3 separate regions of the Homo sapiens genome follow, and all the other regions are linked to region 2. The links come from fine-mapping of genetic effects on gene expression. A gene starts in region 2. Each other region holds a variant in brackets. All regions are shown on one strand. Distances are from middle to middle.

Region 1 (5,972 bases), 21 kb before region 2:
CTAAGATTCAGGATTCAGGTACTGGGATCCAGTTGTTTCGGTGGAGGGATCCACAAAGCTTGGACTATCCAGGGAATTCAACTGATAGAATTGCAGTGAGATGTTGGCCAGGACAGCAAGATCCTCTTCCAAGCTCAGTTACATGGCTATTGGCTGAGTTCCTTACCACATGGTCCTCTCCATAAGGCTGCTCATGGCATGACCACCGGCTTCCTCCAGAGCAAATGTTATGAGAAAGGGGGAGAGAGAGAGAGAGAGCATGTAACCAATAACCAGGATGGCAGCGACAGTGTCTTTTTTTTTTTTTCTTTGAGACATAGTTTTGCTCTTGTTGCCCAGGCTGGAGTGCAGTGGCACAATCTCGACTCACTGCAACCTCTGCCACCCAGGTTCAAGCAATTCTCCTGCCTCAGCCTCCTGAGTAGCTGGGATTATAGGTGCCCGCCACCACGTCCGGCTAATTTTTGTACTTCTAGTAGAGACGGGGTTGCCATGTTGGCCAGGCTGGTCTCGAACTCCTGACCTCAGGTGATTCACCCGCCTCGGCCTCCCAAAATGCTAGGATTATAGACGTGAGCCACTGCACCCAATCTTTTATTTTTTTATTTTTTGAGATGGAGTCTTGCTCTGTTACCCAGGCTGGAGTGCAATGGACCAATCTTGGCTCACTGCAACCTCCACCTCCTGGGTTCAAGTGATTGTCCTGCCTCAGCCTTCCGAGTAGCTGGGATCACAGGCATGTGACACCATGCCCGGCTAATTTTTGTATTTTTAGTAGAGACGGGGTTTCACCATGTTGGCCAGGCTGGTCTCAAACTCCTGGGCTCAAGTGACCTTGAACTCCTGAGCTCAAGTCATCCTCCCATCTCAGCCTCCTGAGCAGCTGGAACTACAGGTATATGCCATCATGCCCAGCTAATTGAAAAATTTTTTGTAGAAATGGGGTCTCACTGTGTTGCCCAGGCTGGTCTCAAACTCCTGGCCTCAAGCGATCCTCCCACCCCGACCTCCCAAAGTGCTGGGTTTACAGATATGAGCTACCCCACCCACCCTGAATTTTCTATTTTTTCCACAATAAATTTGAATTACTCATTGTGGGTTGAACTTTGTCCCCCAAAAAGATGTGTTCAAGCCCTAACCCCAGTAACCTGCAAATGTGACCTTATTTGGAAATACGGTCTTTGTAGATATAATCAAATTAAAATGAGGTTACACTGGATTGGGGGGGGTTGCCCTAATCCGATGACTGCTGTCCTTACAAGACATGGAATCGGCCAGGCGCAGTGGCTCACGCCTGTAATCCCAACACTTTGGGAGGCTGAGGCAGGCGGATCACGAGGTCAGGAGTTCAAGACCATCCTGGCTAACATGGTGAAACCCCGTCTCTACTAAAAATACAAAAAATTAGCTGGGCATGGTGGCGGGTGCCTGTAGTCCCAGCTACTTGGGAGGCTGAGGCAGGAGAATGGCATGAACCCAGGAGGCGGAGCTTGCAGTGAGCCAAGATCGCGCCAGTGCACTCCAGCCTAGGCGACAGAGCAAGACTCCATCTCAGAAAAAAAAAAAGGCCGGGCGCGGTGGCTCATGCCTATAATCCCAGCACTTTGGGAGGCATCCTGGCTAACATGGTGAAACCCCATCTCTACTAAAAATACAAAAAAAAAAAAAAATTAGCTGGCTGTGGTGGCGGGTGCCTGTAGTCCCAGCTACTTGGGAGGCTGAGGCAAGAGAATGGCATGAACCCGGGAGGCGGAGCTTGCAGTGAGCCGAGATCGTGCCACTGCACTCCAAAAAAAAAAAAAAAAACAAACTTGGAATTTGCACTTTGGGAGGCCGAGGCGGGTGGATCACTTGAGGTCAGGAGTTCAAGACCAGCATAGTGAAACCCCGTCTCTACTAAAAATGCAAAAATTAGCCAGTTGTGGTGGTGTGCACCTGTAATCCCAGCTATTCTGGAGGCTGAGGCAGGAGGATCACTTGAACCCGGGAAGCGGAGGTTGCAGTGAGCTGAGATCACGTCATTGCACTCCAGCCTGGGAAACAGAGCGAAACTGCATCTGAAAAAAAGGATGGAAATTTGGGCAGAGAGACACAGACACACATAAGGGAGCATACAGTATGAAGATAGGCAGGCAGTGGAGTGATGAGTCTATCATAAACCAAGGAACACCAAGGACCATGTGGCTCACACCTGTAATCCCAGCACGTTGGGAGGCTGAAGGCTGGCGAATTCCTTGACCCCACGAGTTCGAGATGAGCCTGGGCAACATGATGAAATCCTATTTCCACAAAAAAGAAGTAATAATAATTAGGCCAGGCACGGTGGCTCACACCTGTAATCCCAGCACTTTGGGAGGCTGAGGTAGGCAAATCACCTGAGGTCAGGAGTTCGAGACCAGCCTGGCCAACACGGGAATACCTGGTCTCTACTAAAAATACAAAAATTAGCCGGGTGTGGTGGTGCGCACCTGTAATACCAGCTACTCTGGAGGCTGAGGCAGGAGAATCGCTTGAACCTGGAAGGCAGAGGTTGCAGTGATCTGAAATCGAGCCACTGTACTCCAGCCTGGGAAACAAGAGCAAGACTCCTATATCAAAAAAAACAAAAACAAAAAACCAACCAACCAAACAAGAAATTAGCCAGGCATGGTGGCATATGCCTGTGGTTCTAGCTGCTCGGGAGGCTGAGGTGGGAGAATTGCTTGAACCTGGGAGGCAGAGGTGGCAGTGAGCCGAGATCGTGTCACTGCACTACAGCCTGGGCGACAGAGCGAGACTGCATCACAAACAAACAAGCAAGCACAGAAACAAACAAAAAGTTGGGCATGGTGGTGGTTGCCTATAGTCCTAGCTACTTGGGAGGCTGAGGTGGGAGGATCACTTGAGCCCAGGAGGTGTAAGCTGCAGTGAGCCGAGATCGCACCACTGCACTCCAGCCTGGGTGACAGAGCGAGACCCTGTCTCAAAAATAAATTAGCTGGACATAACGGTGCGTGTGCCTGCGGTCCCTGTGGTCCCAGATACTCAGGAGGCTGTGGTGGGAGGATCGCTTGAGCACAGGAATTCGAGGCTGCAGTCAGGTACGATTGTACCACTACCCTCTAACCTGGGCTGCAGAGTGAGATCCTATCTCTCTCTCTCTCTCACACACACACACACACACACACACACACACACACAGACACACAAATTGTTTTAAGCCATTCTGTTTGTGATAATT[T/G]GGTCTGGCAGCCCTAGGAAAAGGATAATTTGAAAAAAAATTGAAATTTGTAATTTGAAAAAAAATACAGAGGCCGGGCGTGGTGGCTCACGCCTGTAATCCCAGCATTTTGGGAGGCTGAGGCAGGTGGATCACTTGAGGTCAGGAGTTCGAGACCAGCCTGGCCAACATGGTAAAACCCTGTCTCTCCTAAAAATACAAAAAATTAGCCGGGCGTGGTGGTGGGTGCCTGTAATCCCAGCTACTCAGGAGGCTGAGGTAGGAGAATCGCTTGAACCCGGGAGGCAGAGGTTGCAGTGAGCTGAGACCGTGCCACTGCCCTCCAGCCTGGGCAACAGAGTGAGACTCCATCTCAAAAATAAATAAATAAATAAAAATAATAAAGCCCAGAAAATTTAGAAGGGGTTATAAACAGGGACTCCCTCCCCTGCTCCCATTTTATAGATGTGTAAACTGAGGCTCAAAGAGGGAATCATTTCCTGGCTCTTGGAACTGTGGGTGTTGGGAAGCAGCCCCTTGTCCCTTCCCTAGGGGTAGACTAAGGTGGTCCCATAGCCACCCACCCCCTTTTCAGTAAAAACCACAATAAAAGAGCTTAGAAAATTTATTCCTTTTGTTCTTTTCCTTTGAAATAACACACACAGGCAGGGAGGTGGGGCGCAGTGGAGGTCGAAGGAGGTGGAAGCGTGCGGAAGTCCTCCAGCCCCTCCCCAAATCCCAGTTCCCCTTTCCAAGTCCCTCCATGGGGTCTCCAGATGATCCTAAGCTCAGAATCCAACTATGAAGTGCAGAATGTAAGGGCGCAGGGGAGGAGGACTTTGCTCCTCTCTCTGGTAGAAAAATAGATCTGGAATGAATTTGGGGATTTGGTGGTTTTTTTTTGTTTTTGTTTTTTGCATCATTGGGTGCTTGGGTTTAGGGAAGGGTGGTCTTTGCCGATTTTCTCCTGGCTTTCAACTCTGGAAGCCTGGGGAGGCCCTGATAGTGCTGGGGTGGGGACATCCCTTCATGTGTCCCTGGCCTCAGACTGTCTCCTTGCCAGCCTCCAGGAGTGAGTGATTCCTCGGACCCCTTGGAGGAACACAGCTCTGGGGACTATTCGCCTAGAAGGTGGGAGGGGGATGGAAGATGCTGTGAAGTGTGGGGATGCAGGGAGTGGAGTGGTTCCAGGGAACAGTTTCCCCACAGGGCTGGGAGGGGGTGGCCATGCAGAGGTGGGGTGAGGGGGAATCCAGCATCCGTGCAGGTTGCAGCCAGGACCTGGGCTTCCTTCCCCACAGACTCCCTCGACCATGCAATTTCATGTCATGAGAAGCCGGCTCTGGGCACCAGTGTGTGTGGGATACTCTGTGACTGGGCTGCCAGGATCTAGACTTGGGGCCTGAACATTTGGGACCCGGCGCCTGGAAGATTCAGATCAGAAACCGGGGATTCAGGGCTTGGGATTCAGTGCCTTGGAATATCAGGATCTGCCTTCAAGAGATGAGGTTTCAACATTGAGGGACTGGGCAGAGGGATTGGGGACCCAGAATCTGGAATCCAGCAGCTGCAGTTGCCAGGATCCACTTGCTGTGCCACTGGGGCCCCCGCACTTGTTTTAGGAGCCAGAATCTGGTGGGTGAAGGCTTGGGAATCTGGGATCCAGTGCCTGGGGGTGGAAGGCGTAGTGCTTGAAATGCAGGGATCTGGCAGTCAGCAGAAGGATCTGAGACCCAGTGTCGAGGTTAAAAAAAAACAAAAAACCAAAAACCAATGCAGGAATCCAGTGGGTGGAGTGAGGGGATCTGGGATCCAGTGATGGGGGCCCCAGGATCCAGGCATTGTGGTTGTCAGGATCCAGTGGTGAGGTTTGTTGACATCCAGAATCCAGCAGCTGAGCTTGGAGATCCAGGGCTCGAGGCATGGGGATCTGGGGTTGGGGATCTAGGATCCAGCGTTTCACTAGGACACTGGATCTGGTGCCTGAGGGAGGCAGGGTCTGGGTGTTGAGGTACAGGGAATCCGTGCTCCTGTGGTTGGGGTGTTGGGATCCATTCACTGATTTGTGTGGGATCCAGTGGTTAAGACGTAGAGGTCCAGGATCCAGTAGGGGGCACAGGGAAGCGTGGGATCCACCTTAGGATGTGGGGCTGCAGGATCCAGTGATTTGGGGGATGGGGATTAAGGGCTGGGGTGTGGATAATCTTGAATCTTGTGGTTAGGGTAGCAGACTTGAGTTGCTGAAGTAAGGGATCCACAGTTATGGTTACAGGGGGATCTGGGATCTAGTGGCTGAAGGGTGGGGATCGCATGACCCAGTGGTTGGGGCATAGGAGTCTAGGATCCAGGATCTGGATGCTGGGATCCCATGACCCAATGGTTGGGGCATAGGAGTCTAGGATCCAGGATCTGGGTACTGGGATCTCGTGGCCAAAGAGTAGGGATCCTGTGGTTGGATCATCAGTCTCCAGTGGCTGAGGTGTGGGGGGTGAGGGATTGGGGGGACGGGCTCCGGGTCCCTCACCTGGACGTGACCCCCAAGGCCTGCTTCATGTTCTCGTAGACCACATAGGAGATGCTCACAGCTGGAATAACCTTCATGAAGTTGGGGGCGATCCCCCGGTAGAGGCCCCGCATGCCCTCCTGGGACAGGATGTGACGTAGCAGACCCAGCATGGACAGCTGGGGGCCACCCTCGATGGAGGCTGGGAGGGGGCGGGGGGGGCACCAGGTAAGGCCAACGTTCCCCTTTCACTTCCCCCTCCTACCCCCA
Region 2 (5,972 bases):
ATGTGAGCCACTGCGCCTGGCCAGATCTGTCTGACTTCAAAGCCCCAACCTCTCAGCTGTATCCTCCTTGGGACTGGGTCTGGAGCCCAGAAGACAGAGATGGCCAAGGGGTCACTGTGTCCTGAGTTACTTTGGATTCCAGACCCCCAGCGACTCACCTGTGCAAAATTTTCTCAGCCTGCTCCAGCGAGATGGAAATGCCCAGAGCTCGGAAACTCTGTTGGATCTCAGAGACATCAATGTGACCTGGGGAGGGGGCCGGAGGTGGGGAAGGATGTGCGTGTGAGGACACCTGGGGAACCCCAGGACCAAGGATCAGAACAGCTTGGAATGGAGGTGGTCTAGCAAGATCAGGGGCTCCAGAAACCTAGGAGGAGGTTTGCAGTAGGGCTGTGGGGGGACCCCTGACTCACTGGGGTCAGAGAGGTGGAACTGGGAAATACTGGGGGGGCTTCTCTGTTCTGTAAATGAATGAAGGAATCCAGGGGTAATTGTAGGGGTCTCTATGCCATGGGGGATTGAGAGGCAATATCCACAACCCAGATGCTGCTATGAGGGGATCTCTGTCCCACAGGGGACCCAGGAACAGCATAGGGTATCTTTGCCCCATAGAAAAATCTAAGGGTAATTATCGGGGTTCTGCCCCAGTAGGGAAAGGAGGTGGGATGGGCTGGCTGGGCCTCGAACCACCTAGCTAGGGGGTGAGGAGTGCTCCTGAAATAGCCTATGAGTCATCGGGGAGAAGCGGCCCTCCCCCTCTCCTCCTAGCGCTGCCAGTTCTAACCCCACTGATGTCTCTAGGGCCCCCACAGCCCTATCCCTTGGGGCCTGCAGGCAGGTCGCCCGACCTTACCATCCTGGTTCCGGTCAAGACTGTGAAACATGAGCAGCAGACGCTGTTCCCGCTCCTGCAGATAGCGGGAAAATTCCTCCAGGTCGAGCCCGCCATCTGGGTCAGCATCACCCTCAGAGGAGATACCCTGACAGAGGGAAAGGGGATAGAGGTGGCTCCAGGAACCTGCTCCTGATCTGGAGGGGACGCATGTCACCTTATGCCTTAGGAACCCAGAGCCCCCAGCGCCTTGAGGAAGGGGATAGAAGACGTCACCCCACTTCTCCCTCAGTCAGCTAACTTCTCAGCCAGATCCCTACAGCCACCACAGGTCTGTGCGGTGGGTGTGAGTGGTCTAGTTTTCCTGGTGAGCAAACTGAGGCTCTGCAAGGTCAAGTCACCAGTTCAAGGTCACAGAACCAGGAAATGGTAACCTCAGTTCTCATCTGTAAAGCCTGTCCTTCCAGCTGTCTCTTGTTTTTAGTTTTTGTTATTTTTTTAGGTATCTCATTCCTGTTGAACCCAGCTGCCTCTTAAAAAACCCTGTCCACATGGGGGACCCAGGGGTTCCCTTTGGAGGAAGCCCTGGGCGATGTGGGGCAGGAGAGAACCAAGCGGAGTGGCTGAGGCCTTGGTTTTTCCCATTTGGGAAGTGGGAGGTTGGACTGCTCTCAGGGTTGCTGTGGTTCTCTTAGAGCGATCTGGGGCTACAGGTGTGGGAAGGACCTGCAAAGTGGAGGTGGGGGCAGCGGGAGGAAAGTCTTGTTATAGGTGCATTCCCAGCTGCGGGTGACCGCAGACAGGATTGGGTCCCTGGCTGGGGCAGCCCGGGACAGTGAGCCAGGCCCGTGAACGGCCCATGAAAGGGCAGGCCAGGGAATGTAAACACAGGGATCGGGGCAGCTGCAGGCCAGGGCAGTAGGTGCCCAGAGGATGGAGGGTGTGTCTCCTGGAGGTGAGAGCAGGGCACGTCATGGGCTGTGCAGTCTGGAGGAGGGTGTGTCCCGGGCAGTGGGCAGGAAAGCGCCCCCATCTCTTCCCAGGCAGACGCCCCCTGCCCCGCAGCAGGGGGATCGGGTGTTGGCCGCGGAACTGCAGGCTTGGGGCCTCGGCGTCCCTGTCTTGAGCGATCCCGTTAGGCCAAACACGAGTGGGTAGGGGGAACGAGACAGAGACACAGGTTCTGGAGTCCAGCCACAGGTAGTCCCTGGTGGCTCCGGCCGCCCAGTTCAGGGGCTTGGGTAACCGGGAGCGGGCGGGGCCGGGAGGGGAGGAGGTCCCTGGGGGTGGGGGTACCTGTTGGGCGCCGGGGTCTGGGTTGCCCCCGCCCAGCCTGGCCAGCCCCTGGCGCAACTCGTGCACGTCCACGCGGCCATCCTTGTTACTGTCCAGCTCCTCGAACAGGCGACCCCAGCGCTGCCGCCGCTCCGCGTCGCCCGGGCTCCCCCGCATGGCGCCCGCCCGGGGGGGAGGGGAGGCCCGGCAGCGGCGGCCTCAGTGGGGGCTTCGCGGCTCCCCCTCCCCCCCCGGGACCCCGCAGGGTCAGCTCCCGCGGCCGCCGGCTCCGCAGCCTCCGCGCAGTCCGCTCGGCTCTGGCACTTGCGGGAGGTGGTGACGGCTAGCCGTCGCCGCCCGCGCCAGAACTTGCGTCTCCTCCCCCGACCTGCATTGGGGGGAGGGGACCGAGGGCGGAGCTGGGGGCGTGGGGAGGGAATGTCTGGGATGGTCTGGTATTGCACAGCCGAGGAACACCAGAGTTCCTTCTGGGAAGACGGGCTAGGGAGCTCAGTGGTCTCAGGTCTGGTTTCAGAGTTCCGCCTCTGCGTGCCTCAGTTTACCCTTTCCCCCTTTGCCCAAGGGGGCAAGGTAGAGCGCTGTCGGGGATTGGGTTTCATAATCCCCTTCCACTTGACCTCCCCGCCACACCCACTAATCTTCAGGAACTCAAGTTCTCGCTTTTCCCAGACGCACGCAAGAACCGTGCACCATCTCGCTCGCTCTCTGCCCGCCCGCGCCTTACACCTTCCCCGCTCGGCCGCAGAAACAGAAGATCCAGGAGCGATGCTCTCCCACTGTCCCTTCTTCCCGCCCGCGCGCTTCCTTTCTCGGTTCCCACTCTGACTGGGAAACAGAAAATCAACGCGCGGCGCGGCTGCAAAGTCGGTTTCCTATTGGTCAGCGCCTCCTGGGCTGAGCCCGCCCGCCCCGCCTCTTCTCCCACCTAGGCGGGGCCTCCCCGCAGACCCCCGACTGCCTCCAGCCCGCAGTCCCACCGCCTGCCAGGAGATCTTAAAGGGGCCGCGGCCGCAATCAGACGCTGAGCGGCGTGGGGAGGGGGTGGCTCAGTGACCCGGGCGCGGGGTTGAGGATCCCAGTGGTCGAGCGCTGGAGGCAGGGCCCCAGCCTGTCGCACTCGCTGCACCTGCGGAATGTCCCTACTGCTAGTTTCGGGCGCAGTTTCTCGATCCACCATTAGGGGGAAGGGAGCCCAGACCACTTGACAGCGAATACTCGATAACAAATCTCACTTTGATTCAGTGCTTTGCACATGCCAGGGCTTTTACTCACCTCTCGAGTCGTCTTTGCCAAAACCCTATAAGGTAGGTGGTACTGGCGTTCGCACTTTGCAGATAAGGAAGCGGAGGTTAAGTCATTCTCCCCAGTCCTGATGACCACTAAGGGGCAAAACAGGGTTTAAAGAGATCTGGGATCCTTAACCATCACTCTATACCCTAGAAAGAATTAATTATCTTTTTTTTTTTTTTTTTTTTGAAACGGAGTTTCGCTGTTGTTGCTCAGGCTGGAGTGCAATGGCGCGATCTCGGCTCACTGCAACCTCCGCCTCCCGGATTCAAACGATTCTTTTGCCTCAGCCTCCCGAGTAGCTGGGATTACAGGCGCCCGCCACCAAACCCAGCTAATTTTTGTATTTTTAGTGGAGACGGGGTTTCACCATGTTGGCCAGGCTGGTCTCGAACTCCTGACCTCGTGATCCGCCCGCCTCAGCCTCCCAAAGTGCTGGGATTATAGGCGTGAGCCATCGCACGCAGCAGTGAGTTTTTTTTTTTTTTTTTTTTTTTTTTTTTTTTTTTTTTTTTTTTTTTTGAGATGGAGTTTCGCTCTTATTGCCCAGGCTGGAGTGCAATGGCACGATCTCAGCTCACCACAACCTCCGCCTCCCGGGTTCAAGCAATGCTCCCGCCTCAGCCTCCCAAGTAGCTGAGATTACAGGCGCACACCACCACGCCCGGCTAATTTTTGTATTTTTAGTAGAGACGGGGTTTCACCATGTTGGTTAGGCTGGTCTCAAACTCCTGACCTCGTGATCCGCCCGCCTCGGCCTCCCAAAGTGCTGGGATTACAGGCATGAGCCACCATGCCCGACCGCAGCCGTGAGTTTTGTATTTTTATTAGAGACGGGGGGGGGGGGTTTCACCTGTGGACCAGGCTGGTCTCGAACACCTGACCTCAGATTATCCTCCCGCTTCAGCCTCCCAAAGTGCTGGGATTACAGGCGTGAGTCACCGCGCCCGGCCTGGCCTAATTATTCTTTAATCATCACTTGTCACCCAAGGGTCCTCAGGAGGGGGTCTTGTTATTATCATCATCCTTTATCCAAAGATACAGCATTGGCCGGTCTCGGTGGCTTAGGCCTCTAATTCTAGCAATTTGAGAGGCCGAGATGGGAGGATCGCTTGGGGTCAGGAGTTTGAGACCGGCCTGGGCAATATAGCAAGACACCCAACTCTACAAATAATAATAATAATTATTATTATTTTTTTTAAAAAGGAAAGAAAACAAAGATACAGTCGTGAGGGCATATTTAGTTCACGCCCAGCCTCTGCCTAGACAGGTGTGCTGGAACAGGTGTGCCCCAGACAAATGAGTCTCTTCTAAGAGGCTCCCCAGCAGAGGTTTTCATTTACAGTTGTTCCTTGCAGGTGCCATACAGCATGGAGTGATACAGAGGTTTTTTTCCATGTAAGTGCCCCTAAATAGGTGTTTTCTCACAGATACATTCTTGACAGGTGGGCCTCAGTGTATGTGAGCCCCTGCCCTGATGGTTTTACCCACAGATGTGTGTCAATGTGAGTGTGCCCCGTGCAGATGTTCCAAGTTCTTCCCCTCACTTGAGCTCAATTCCATACAGGTGTTCCTCCTACAAGGTGCTTTCTCTTACCTCACAGGTATGTTTCTGAGCAGGTTTCCCTCCACCCATGAATGCATTCTACAGTCTCCCGCCCCGTAGGTGTGTTTCAGTTAAGTATACACCCATCTGGGTATGTTTCCATACAACCGAGTCCCATACAGGTTTACGTAAATGCAGGTGTGTCTCATACAGGTATTTACAAGACACTGACACCCAGGAATTCCCCCAATGCAAGTGCCGTACATTTCATAGGTGAGCCATGCAGATATGTTCCTAAAACAGGTCTATTCCACATCAGAGTGCCTTAGTTAGCTGTTTGTGATGATAATGCAGGCGTGTTCTATAGAGATACTGTCCACCCTGGTGGTATGTATCCATTTGGTTATATTTCTTTTCTTTTTTTGACAGTCTTGCTCTGTCACCCAGGCTAGAGTGCAGTGGCGTGATCTCGGCTCACTGCAACCTCCGCCTCCAGGGTTCAAGCGATTCTCCTGCCTCAGCCTCCCAAGTAGCTAGGATTACAGGCGCCCACCACTACGCTAGCTAATTTTTGATTATTTTTTAGTAGAGACGGGGATTTCACCATCTTGGCTAGGCTGGTCTCGAACTCGTGACCTCGTGATCCACCTGCCTCGGCCTCCCAAAGTGCTAGGATTACAGGCGTGGGCCACCATGCCCAGCCTTGGCTATATTTCGTATAGCTGTGATTCAATGCAGATTTTTTTTTTTTTTTATGAGATGGAGTTTCACTCTTGTCACCCAGGGTGGAGTGCAATGGTGCAATCTCGGCTCACTGCAATCTCTGTCTCCTGAGTTCAAGCAATTCTCCTGCCTCAGCGCCCCCCGAGTAGCTGAGATTACAGGCACCTGCCACCACACCCGGCTAATTTTTGTATTTTTAGTAGAGACAAGGTTTCACCATGTTGGGCAGGCTGGTCTGGTTTCGAACTCCTGACGTCAGGTGATCCTCCTGCCTAGGCCTCCCAAAGT
Region 3 (5,972 bases), 27 kb after region 2:
TAATGCCTTTATAAAAGAGGCTTGAGGCCCAGTGCGGTGGCTCTGGCAGGGTGCAGTGGTTCACACCTGTAATCCTAGCACTCTGGGAGGCTGAGGGGGGTGGATTGCTTGAGGCAGAAGTTTGAGACCAGCCTGGGCAGCATGGTGAAACCCCGTCTCTACAAAAAATACAGAAATTAGCTGGGCATGGTGGTGTGCACCTGTAGTCCCAGCTACTTGGGAGGCTGAGTGGGAGGATTGTTTGAACCCAGGAGGCAGAGGTTGCAGTGAGTGAAGATTGCACCACTGCACTGCAGCATGGGCAGCAGAGAGAGACTCTGTCTCGGGAAAGTAAAAAATAAAAAAATAAAAATAAATAAATAAATAAATAAAAAGAGGTTTGAGCTAGGTGTGGTGATAGCGCCTGTAGTCCCGGCTACTTGGGAGGCTAAGGCGGGAGGATCACTTGAGCCCAGGAGTTCAAGCCTACAGTGAACTTTGATTGCACCACTGCATTCCAGCGAGTGACAGAGCAAGACTCTATGTTAAAAAAAAAAAAAATTAAGGCTGCTATGACAAAATATCTGCAACCTCTGCCTCCCAGGTTCAAGTGATTCTCCTGACTCAGCTTCCCAAGTAGCTGGGACTACAGATCTGTACCACCATGCGTGGCTATGTAGCTAGCTACTTGGGAGGCTGAGGCAGGAGAATCGCTTGAACCTGGGAGTTGTAGTGAGCCAAGATCGTGCTATTGTACTCCAGCCTGGGTGATAAGAGCGAAACTCCATCCCCCTACCCAAAAAAAAAGAGAGATGGGGTCACACTCTGTCACCCAGGCCGACGTGCAGTGGCGCCATCATAGCTCACTGTAGCCTTGACCTCCTGGGCTCAAGTGATCCTCCCACCTCAGCCCCCTGAGTAGCTGGGACTACAGTTGTGTGCTACTGTACACACAACTGTTTTTTTTTTTAAATTTAATTTAATTTTATTTTTGAGACAGGGTCTCACTCTGTCACCCAGGCTGGAGTGCAGTGGCACGATCTTCACTCATTGCAACCTCTGCCTCCTGGGTTCAAGCGATTCTCCTGCCTCAGCCTCCCAAGTAGCTGGGATTATAGGCGTCTGCCACCGCACCCAGCTAATTTTTGTATTTTTAGTAGAGGTGGGGTTTCACCATCTTGGCCAAGCTGGTCTTGGACTCCTGACCTCGTGATCCACTGATCCACCCGCCTCGGCCTCCAAAAGTACTGGGATTACAGCCATGAGCCACCACGCCCGGCCCTTTTTTTTTTTTTTTTTTTTTTTTTGTGAGACGGAGCCTTGCTCTGTCACCCAGGCTGGCTGGAGTACAGTGGCGCAATCATTGCAACCTCTGCCTCCTGGGTTCAAGCAATTCTCCTGCCTCAGCTTCCCGAATAGCTGGGATTACAGGTGACCGCCACCACGCCCGGCTAATTTTTGTGTGTGTGTTTTAGTAGAGATCTGGTTTCCCCATGTTGGCCAGGCTGGTCTTGAACTCCTGACCTCAAGTGATCTGCCCGCCTTGGCCTCCCAAAGTGCTGGGATTACAGGTATGAGCCACCGTGCCTGGTCAGCTCAGCTAATTTTAAAAAATATTTTTGTAGAGATGGGGTTTCGCTTTATTGCCTGGTCTGGTCTTGAACTTCTGGCCTCCAGCAATCCCCAGGCCTCGGTCTTCCAAAGTGAATGGGATTACAAGCACGAGCCACAGTGCCCAGCCTGTTTTTATTTTTATTTTATTTATTTATTTATTTTTTGAGATGAAGTCTCACTGTCGCCCAGGCTGGAGTGCAGTGGCGTGATCTTGGCTCACTGCAAGCTCCACTTCCCAGATTTATGGCATTCTCCTGCCTCAGCCTCCCGAGTAGCTGGGACTACAGGTGCCCGCCACCACGCCTGGCTGATTTTTTTGTATTTTTGGTAGAGACGGGGTTTCACCGTGTTAGCCAAGGTGGTCTGGATCTCCTGACTTAGTGATTCACCTGCCTCGGCCTCCCAAAGTGCTGGGATTACAGGCGTGAGCCACCGCGCCCGGCCGCCTGTTTTTATTTTTTTAATTATTTTAAGAGATGGGGTCTCCCTCTCTGTGTCTCCTAGGCTGGAGTGCAGTGGTACCATTATAGCTCAATGCCACCTGTAACTCCTTGGCTCAAGTGATCCTCCCACCTCAGCCTCTTGAGCAACTAGGGTTATAGGCACAGCCACCACACATCGTTAATTTTTTTGTTGTTTTTGAGACGGAGTTTCACTCTTGTTGCCCAGGCTGAGTGCAATGGCACGATCTTGGCTCACTGCAACCTCCGCTTCCCAGGTTCAAGCGATTCTCCTGCCTCAGCCTCCCAAGTAGCTGGGATTACAGGCACCCGTCACCACGCCTGGCTTATTTTTGTATTTTTAGTAGAGACGGGGTTTCAGCATGTGGCCAGGCTGGTCTGGAACTCCTGACCTCAGGTGATCCATCTGCCTCAGCCTCCTGAAGTGCTGGGATTACAGGTGTGAGCCACTGCGCCTAGCCTTTTTATTTTTATTTTTAATTTTTTTGAGAGACAGGGTCTCCATCTGTTGCCCTGGCTGGAGTGCAGTGGTGC[C/T]ATCATAGCTCACTATAGTCTCGAACTCCTGGGCTCATGTTATCCTCCCATCCCAGCCTCCCAAGGAGCTAGGACTACAGCAATGTGCCACCACACCCAGCTAACTTATTGGAACAATTTTCATAGAGACAGGGTCTTGCTATGTTGCCTAGGGTGGCCTCAAACTCCTGGCCTCAAGAGATCTTTGTGCTTCAGCCTCCCAAAGTCCTGGGATTACAGGTGTGAGCCACAGTGCCTGGCCGAGCCAGTAGCATTTATCTTCAAATCTCTCTCACTTGCTGGGACTCCTGCTTTTGTCCTCACTTCTTCTCTGACTCTGATCCTCTGTCTCCCTCTTATAAAGATCCTTGTGATTGTATTGGACCCACCCAAATAATTTGCCATAATCCTGTTATCTTAAAATCCTTAACTTTGCCAGGCATGGTGGCTGACGCCTGTAATCCCAGCACTTTGGGAGGCTGAAGCCTGAGGATCGCCTGAGGCCAGAAGTTCAAGACCAGCCTGGGCAATATATCAAGATCCTGTCTCTATAAAAAAATCTAAAAAAATAGCTGGGTGCAGGCCAGCTGTGGTGGCTCACGCCTGTAATCCCAGCACTTTGGGAGGCTGAGATGGGTGGATCACCTGAGGTCAGCAGTTCAAGACCAGCCTGGCCAACATGGTGAAACCCCATCTCTACTAAAAATATGGAAATTAGCCACGTGTGGTGGCGCATGCCTATAATCCCAGCTACTCGGAAGGTTGAGGCAGGAGAATCGCTTGAACCTGGGAGGTGGAGGTTGCAGTGAGCTGAGATCATGCCATGGCACTCCAGCCTGGGCGACAGAGTCAGACTCCACCTCAAAAAAAAAAAAAATTAAAAATTAGCTGGGTGTGGTGGTACACGCCTGTAGTTCCGAATCAGGAGGCTGAGGTGGGAGGATTACTTGAGCCCAGAAGGTCGAGGCTGCAGTGAATCGTGATCACGCCACTGCTCTCCAGGCAATAGAGTGAGACTCTGTCTCAAAAACAAACACAAAAAAACCTACACCTGGCCGGACGCGGTTGCTTGCTCTTGTAATCCCAGCACTTTGGGAGGCCGAGGTGGGTGGATTGCTTGAGCTCAGGGATCCTCCCACCTCAGCCTCTGACCAGCCTGGGTATCATGGTGAAACGCCATCTCTACAGAAAAGCTAGCTGGCATGGTGACACATGCCTGTAGTCCCAGCTACTTGGGAGGCTGAGGTAGGAGGATCACTTGAGCCCAGGAAGTCGAGGCTGCAGTAAGCCATGATTGTGCCACTGCGCTCCAGCTTGGGTGACAGAAGGAGACTAAAAAAAATGTTGAACCCCCCAAAGCAACTGCCTCATCAAAGTTTGGGGAAATACTTTAAAAAAAAGAAAAAAAGAAAGAAAGAAACAAACAAAACCAGGCTGGGTGTGGTGGCTCACACCTAATCTCAGCATTTTGGGAGGCTAAGGCGGGCCGATCACCTGAGGTCAGGAGTTCGAGACCAGCCCCTGGCCAACATGGTGAAACCCCGTCTCTACTAAAAATACAAAAAAAAATTAGCCGGGTGTGGCGGTGGGTGCCTGTAGTCCCAGCTACTTGGGAGGCTGAGGCAGGAGAATCATTTGAACCTGGGAGGTGGAGATTGCAGTGAGCCAAGATCGCACCACTGCACTGCAGCCTGGGCAACAAGAGCGAAACTCTGTCTCAAAAATAAATAAATAGGCCGGGCGCGGTGGCTCACGCCTGTAATCCCAGCACTTTGGGAGGCCGAGGCGGGTGGATCACAAGGTCAGGAGATCAAGACCATCCTGGCTAACATGGTGAAACCCCATCTCTACTAAATATACAAAAAATTAGCCTGGCGTCATGGCGGGCGCCTGTAGTCCCAGCTACTCGGGAGGCTGAGGCAGGAGAATGGCGTGAACCCGGGAGGCGGAGCTTGCAGTGAGTCGAGATTGCGCCACTGCACTCCAGCCTGGGCAACAGAGCGAGACTGCATCTCAAAAATAAATAAATAAATAAATAATTAATAAACTAAAAACAAAAAACAAAAAAGCAAATAAAAAGTCCGTACACTTCTGAGTAGTTAAGTGCCTTGTGCAAGGAAGGAGGATGCTGAGTGGGGAACCCAACCCAGATCTATCCATTATGCTGCTACCTAAATCCTTTGTATTGCTGGTCTACCACCCAGTGCTGTGCTGTGCTGTGCTGGGCCTGCTGAAGTTGCCGTGGGCTGATGTCCACGCTGCTTCCCTCATGCCTCTCCTTACTCCTGGCTGCAGGGGGACGTAGCAAGAAGACTGAGGCTCCAGCCTGGGTGCCTGGTGTCTAGCATAGAGTGGTGGACGTTACTGCTTGGCTCTCCGCGTGTCCCCCTCTCACCTACCCTTGCCCCTGGCTCGTCTTCCTAATGCAGACGCTGCAAAAAACCCCTCCAACCCCTACATTTCCCAGATGCCTTTGCTGCTCCGTTTCTGGATGCAGAATTGGTTCTACCAATGAGAAATGCTCATGAGAGATTTAGAAAGTGGAAGTGAGGCAGTGTGGGCTTGTGTGTATATCTTGCTGAGAAGCAGGGTTGTGGAGCTATACATTTTATTTTCATGAATTCGTGTTCTTTGTTGGACCCATTTCCAGGTCATAGTTCTGGTAACTGCCTCTTTGTTCTCCACCTTTCTCCCTATACAAAGGAGCTGCTCCTTGGTGACCCAGCTCTGTGGTGTCACGAGGGTCCTACCTATTCCGGGGCTGCTCAATCTGTGGTCTTATTCACACATCTTTAGCATCTCCTGAGAACTTGTTAAAAATGCAGAGTCTTGAGCCCCACCCCGGACCTACTTACTGAATCTGCAACTGTGAGGGGGTGAGACTGAAGAAACTGTGCGTTAGCAAGTTGTTCTGCTGATTCTTTTGCACGGTAAAATTTGAGAAGCCTACACAGCCCACTCTCTCAGCGTCTTCCAGTGATTTTGCAAGCACCATCGATTCTTGTATTAAGTTCCTGTCTGCTTAATATACCTAGAATGGTCCCCACACGGAACTCTGGCTGCCTGTGTCAGGATTCTAGGGTTCAACTAGCAGGGTTTGAATTCCAGCTCACTGTTTAGTAGCCATGTGACCATGGGCAAGTGACTTTGTGTGGCAAATTGTAATTTATTCCTTCATTTTTTCCTTCCTTCCTTCTTTCCTTCCTTCCTCCCTCTTCTCTCCCTCCCTCCCTTCCTTACTTCCCTCCTTCCTGTCTTCCTGTCTTCTTGCCTTCTTCTTTTCTTCCTTCCTTCCTTCTTTCCTTCCCTCCTTTCTTTTCTCTCTCTCTTTCTTTTCTTTCTTTCCTTCTTTTTTTTGAGACAGAGTCTCACTCTGTTGCCCAGGCTGAAGTGCAATGGCACGAT

What was found. PIP is the estimated chance that this variant, and not a neighbour inherited with it, causes the effect.
Region 1: its variant is fine-mapped to the expression of SLC25A23 in left ventricle (GTEx, PIP above 0.99).
Region 3: its variant is fine-mapped to the expression of SLC25A23 in whole blood (INTERVAL, PIP above 0.99).

The regions. Positions count from the first base shown.
Region 1 is chr19:6,436,256-6,442,227 of GRCh38, forward strand. It overlaps SLC25A23 (solute carrier family 25 member 23), which reads right to left. Exons shown (of 10, transcript NM_024103.3): 10 at 3,809-5,904. The coding sequence ends at 5,720. It also overlaps a transcript of SLC25A41 not described here. Among named protein-coding and RNA genes, the nearest start is that of SLC25A41, 5.5 kb to the left of the region's middle. The variant T/G (reference allele first, on the strand shown) is at 3,221.
Region 2 is chr19:6,457,345-6,463,316 of GRCh38, forward strand. It overlaps SLC25A23 (solute carrier family 25 member 23), which reads right to left and starts at 2,448. Exons shown (of 10, transcript NM_024103.3): 1 at 2,129-2,448; 2 at 854-980; 3 at 159-246. The coding sequence starts at 2,284. RefSeq lists silencers at 2,200-2,259, 2,310-2,449, 2,960-3,139.
Region 3 is chr19:6,484,537-6,490,508 of GRCh38, forward strand. No RefSeq gene overlaps it. Among named protein-coding and RNA genes, the nearest start is that of DENND1C, 5.7 kb to the left of the region's middle. RefSeq lists an enhancer at 5,147-5,416. The variant C/T (reference allele first, on the strand shown) is at 2,589.